2 separate regions of the Homo sapiens genome follow, and region 2 is linked to region 1. Evidence: fine-mapped expression QTL. A gene starts in region 1. The other region holds a variant in brackets. All regions are shown on one strand. Distances are from middle to middle. Region 1 holds the start of MKS1 (MKS transition zone complex subunit 1). Region 2 overlaps EPX (eosinophil peroxidase).

What was found. PIP is the estimated chance that this variant, and not a neighbour inherited with it, causes the effect.
Region 2: its variant is fine-mapped to the expression of MKS1 in breast (GTEx, PIP 0.94).

Annotation. Positions count from the first base shown.
Region 1 is chr17:58,217,629-58,220,644 of GRCh38, reverse strand. It overlaps MKS1 (MKS transition zone complex subunit 1), which reads left to right and starts at 1,390. Exons shown (of 18, transcript NM_017777.4): 1 at 1,390-1,494; 2 at 1,916-2,025. The coding sequence starts at 1,415. LOC105371841 (a long non-coding RNA gene) reads right to left here and starts at 1,331. Exons shown (of 2, transcript XR_934884.4): 1 at 586-1,331. RefSeq lists an enhancer at 1,283-1,562.
Region 2 is chr17:58,194,598-58,197,097 of GRCh38, reverse strand. EPX (eosinophil peroxidase) reads right to left here. Exons shown (of 13, transcript NM_000502.6): 6 at 1,928-2,134; 7 at 1-159. Among named protein-coding and RNA genes, the nearest start is that of EPX, 3.1 kb to the right of the region's middle. The variant T/C (reference allele first, on the strand shown) is at 1,251.

The DNA.
Region 1 (3,016 bases):
CCGTCTCTACTAAAAATACAAAAAATTAGCCGGGCGTAGTGGCGGGCGCCTGTAGTCCCGGCTACTTGGGAGGCTGAGGCAGGAGAATGGCGTGAACCCGGGAGGCGGAGCTTGCAGTGAGCCGAGATCCCGCCACTGCACTCCAGCCTGGGCGACAGAGCGAGACTCCGTCTCAAAAAAAAAAAAAAAAAAATTATTATTTCCCAGGTTGGAAATGTGTGCGTTTATGGAATAAATTGGTAGGTGAGAGGCTGTGAGGCAAACTGGAAGGTGGTTAGGCTTCAAAAGACAGAAGAACTTGGGCTAGAATCCCAGTACTTTTACCACTTGCAAGCTAGCAAGTCCTTTAAACCCTGGCCTTCACGAACTTCATTTTTAAAGTGAATAAAAGTACCTTTTTGAGAGGCTTCTACAAGGATTTGGGACAATGCAAACAAAAGTGCTCAAGCTGCACTAGATCCTAAATAAATGGTGCTATTTATGGTGAGTCGGTGTTACACAACTAGTGGCTATGGCACCCAGAGCTTCCAATGCCAAATCATCAAACTGGCATGAGATTCCCGAGTTCAGGGGACAATTGCTTACTTTGTTGGAGGAGGACTAGATGTGAACAAGGCTGATAAATGTTGACATTCCCAAAGTGCCGGGACGCCAGACGTGAGGTTACAGCATGTCCTTCCTTTGCTAGTACAACGAAGCATGACTTGTGAATGTCACTTTTTTGGCTTTTCAGGAAGCCAGTGCAGTAACAAAGTGGCTTAATGATCCAAAACTAACATACACAAGGTAAGAATCAGTTCAATAATAACATCGTTTCCTTCCTTACTGTTGACTTCCTTGTTTTTTCTTTCTTTGCTCAGTGAATATCAACACAAAGACTAATAAATCTTCTGACACTTTTTTTGTCTTCCAAGAATATATTTTCTTGTCTGGCTAAGGGCCATCACCTTCCCTGACTCCTTTGGGAATAATGGGTGCATTTCTTACAGTCACATCACCCGATTTTCAGGCCAAAGTTTTCACGCGTTGGGTGGAAGGCAGTGTGGCATGGTGGAAAAGGTAGAGGGCGAAGACTCAGGCCACCTGGTCCCCGTCATCATTTCTGCATCTATCTGTCTATATGAAGTGGGCTGATGGCTGTGCCAGTTTCCTCATTTGCACAGCGCACGAGGTCCCGCTTTCGGTGAGCTTTTATCGCATACATGGTAAGCGGTGATCGGTAGGACCCCGGAGCCCTCTTGGGCGTTCGGCTTGGGCTGCACTTGCACTGTGTGGCCAACTGCGACCGTGGCGCCGTGACGGGAACGGCGGGTTGCGCGCGCAGCACCTCCGTCGCCTCCCGATCCAGCGTCTCCGTTGCCAGGAAAACAGAGCGGCGCGCTTTCCGGCGCAGTCGCGGCGCGTCGCAGCTGTCATGGCGGAGACCGTCTGGAGCACTGACACCGGGGAGGCAGTGTATCGCTCCCGGGACCCCGTGCGCAACTTGCGCCTCCGGTAGTCGCACCGCCCCAGCCCCGAGGCCCCATGCTTTTGTGTCCTTAGATCATTCCAACCTGAGCTCGGTGTTCTGAGGTCCCCACTTTCTGCTTACAATCCCGACCACTTCTCCGGGCTCCCCACTTCTTTCACTATCCGTACCCCCATCCACTCACAGCCTCTAAGAACCCCTTACAGACCTACCCAAGTCCATTCACGTCTTTGTTGCTCCCAGTTTCTCAAAGCCCTGTGCCCCCAGTACACCCTCTCCCCTTCATTCTTCCCCATAGGACGGCGCACCCACCCACCTCCTCTCCGTTGTCTGCACCCAGCACACCTTGGCAACCCTACCTCCTCTGTTTTGTTTCCCCCATCCTTGCTTTGTGTTCATCTCCTGGTTGCGTGTCTGGTAACGAATATTTTGGGCTTTTCTTGACAGAGTCCACCTGCAAAGAATCACATCAAGCAACTTTCTTCATTATCAGCCTGCTGCCGAGCTCGGGAAGGACCTCATAGACTTGGCCACTTTTAGGCCTCAGCCAACTGCCAGTGGGTGTTACGGTGGTGATGTGCCATCTAATACTAATTATGATACTAATCAGAATTGTGGCCAAATGTAGTGAGATAACAAATACTATACTTCTGATATGTTATAGAGTTGCCCGGCAACCTACATTCTATTTGTGGCTTTTTTTTTTTTTTTTTTTTTTTTTTTTTTTTTGAGACGGAGTCTTGCTCTTTCCCCCAGGCTGAAGTGCAGTGTCGCTATCTCCGCTCACTGCAAGCTCCGCCTCCCGGGTTCACGCGATTCTCCTGCCTCAGCCTCCCGAGTAGCTGGGACTACAGGCGCCCGCCACCACGCCCGGCTAATTTTTTGTATTTTCAGTAGAGGCGGGGTTTCACCGTGTTAGCCAGGATTGTCTCGATCTCCTGACCTCGTGATCCGCCCGCCTTGGCCTCCCAAAGTGCTGGGATTACAGGCGTGAGCCACCGCGCCCGTCCTATTTGTGGCATTTTTAAAAGAGAAAACGTGCCCCAAACCCTAAATACACATATAAACACTTTTAAAAACAATTTTTAAACTGGAGACTGCTTGCAAAATCTGCATATGATGTGCATGTATAGATCAACTGTGTTCTTGTGGTTTTCCTTATCTGGGAAACCAAAAGAATGAGGAGGAGAGGACAGAGTGGTTGTTGTCAGGTCACTAGTCTGTTTGCTTTTATTGTTTCTCTTTCTGTTCAGAGCTGTTCCTGGGCAAGAGTGTGGGCTCACAGGTTGTGAAACGTGTCTCTGAAAAAGGCATACCCAAGAGTGTATTAGATTAGATTTGTTTTCTTTGTTTTTGTTTTCGTTTTGTTTTGAGACAGAATCTCATTCTTCTGCTCAGGCTGGAGTGCAGTGGTATGATCATAGCTCACTGTAAACCTTGGTCTCCCAGGCTCAAGCCATCCTCCTGCCTCAGCCTCCCAACTAGCTGGGACTACAGACTCACACTCAGTTTATTTTTTTTTAAAGTTTTAGTAGAGAAAAGGTCTTG
Region 2 (2,500 bases), 23 kb after region 1:
GGAGACCTCACTGCCATACACCATGCTGGCGTCCACAAAGGAGGTGAGCGCGTTGATCTGGTTGCGGACTCTGTTCTTGTTTTGGGGGCATGAGGGTGCCGAGCGGAAGAAAGGGATGCAGTCACGCTGGTTCTTGATGCGGGGGTCATTGGGTGGGATCTGAGATGGAAGAGGAGACAGTGACATGGGGCCCCCTCAATAGCAGACTCACTCCTCTCCGTCATCTTCCACCTCCTCAAAACCTTGCTTAAAACTCCCTTCCTCCAGGAAGCCCTCCTTGACTCACCCAGGCTCATGCTGCTCACCCCGTCAGTCTGAGTGTCCTTAACATTTTGTTTCATAGAGTCTCAAAAGGTTAGGAATGAATGAGGCTTTTGAAACAATCTCGATCCTCATTTTACAGCAAGGAAAACAGCCTCAGAGAGGGGAAGTGACAACCAGTTAGCAGGAAAGGTGGGATTAGAACTTAGTTCTCTTGACTCTTAGGCCTGAGCTTCTTTAATTCTGTTCAATTCGACAGACCTTTTCTAAGCCCCTTTCTTGCTTGCTGCTTTGGAGATTATGAAGGTTAAAAAAACACAGGAAAGGTTGCAGGAAGCTGGCAGTTCAGTGGAAAAAGACACACACACATAGAGTTAAGAAACTAAGTTGAAGTGGCATCTGCTGTGCTTGATAGAAAAGCCATATGTGGGCCAGGTGTGGTGGCTCACGCCTATAATCCTAGCACTTTGGGAGGCCGAGGCAGGTGGATTACATGAGGCCAGAAGTTTGAGATCAGCCTTGTCAACATGGTGAAACCCAATCTCTACTAAAAATACAAAAATTAGCCAGGCTTGTTGGCACATGCCTGTAATCCCAGCTACTCGGGAGGCTGAGGCATGAGAACTGCTTGAACCCAGGAGGCAGAGGTTGCAGTGAGCTGAGATTGCCCCTCTGTACTCCAGTCTGGACAACAGAGTGAGATTCTGTCTCAAAACAATAATAATAATAATAAAGAAGAAAGAAAGAAGGAAAGATAAAGAAAGAAAGGACGGAAGAAAGAAAAAGAAAGAAAAAGAAAGAAAGAAAGGAAGGAAGGAAATGAAGGAAGGAAGGGAAGGAAGGAAGGAAAGGAAAGAAAGAAGAAAGAAAGAAAGAGGAAGGAAGAAGGAAGGAAGGAGAGAGAGGAGAGGGGAGGGGAGGACATATGTTAAAAGTGTAATAGGAAGATCTGAGAAGGCTCCCCAGAGGAGGTGCCCCTAAGCCAGGGA[T/C]TGAGGAATAGATAAGGTTGCAACAGGGAGAGGCCATCCAGAGGCCCTCACATGTCATCCCTCATGAATGTGGCCCCACCTATTAAGGGTGACTGTGTGTGTACATGTGTGTGTGAGAGGGAGCGTGTGTGTGCACGTGTGTGTGTGTGAGAGAGTGTGTGTGTGCACGTGTGTCAACCCTATGTTCCTAGCAGAGACTCTGCTCCCTGGATTCTATCTTTCCTCCCCTAGTGCCCCACACTGTCCTTGGCTTCTAGCCTGAAGGTTAGGACCCTACTTACAGCCCAAGCCCAAGAAGCTGGCAAGAGCCGCAGGACCCTTGGACTACTCTGGGAAGGAGAGAAGGGCAAGAGCTAAGAGGCCCTTAGGTTGCCAAAAGCAGGGGCCCAGAGGCTTCCCCTGTTGGATTCAGACCCATGGGTCAAGGCATGTGTCAAGGGCTTCCCACTCCATGAAGCCTGACCTGAGCCTCCTGGCAGATTGCCCTACCCCCACCTCTCAAACACACACGGCGCGGGGTCTCTGCTCAGCTGTGTTTCTTGTGTCTCTGTCTCATACCCTAGCTCCACAGGCAGCTCCTTAAGGATGGTGCTCCAGTCTTCCAGATCCCCACCCCCAGCACCTTGCCTTTGGGGGAGGCCACACAAGGGCATGGGAGATTGGCTGAGGGTAGGTACCTTGATGGGAAAGCAGGGGGGCAGCTGGGCGCAGGTCCTCTCACAGTCAACGCCTGCAGTGAAGGCCACTCTGGCCGGGGACTCCGGGGAGAAGTCCAGGTCATGGTCAATGAACTGGCCCCACTGCATGAACATGAGGGCTCGGCCACGGTCGGAGGTCAGTCTCTCATTGGGGAAGCGCACAATCTGGTTGGAGACAGCCCGGACCTGGTGGGGAAATAACATCAGCACGGGACATGGGCTCCCTGACCCCACAAGGTATTAGAGCCAACCCAGGACTCAGGGAGCAGCAGCTCCCCTGCTGGAATTGACAGCCTCTCCTCTTCTGCCCTCCATGCCCCTTTTGTCCCTGGAGGCGTAGCCACCTCCTGCTCTCATTCCTAGAAGGATGGTTTCTGGCTGGGCTCCTGAGGATTCCGGTGGTAAAGAGAAGGAGAGGGGCTAGGTTGACTGGCTCAGACCTCACCAGCTCTCCCAGAGGGGAAGGGAGATCAAATAGATAGATCAATTTGTACACTGATAGCTAACCAGATGATAGCACGGATTCACAGGTGCATGGGCTGGTTGCCAGGT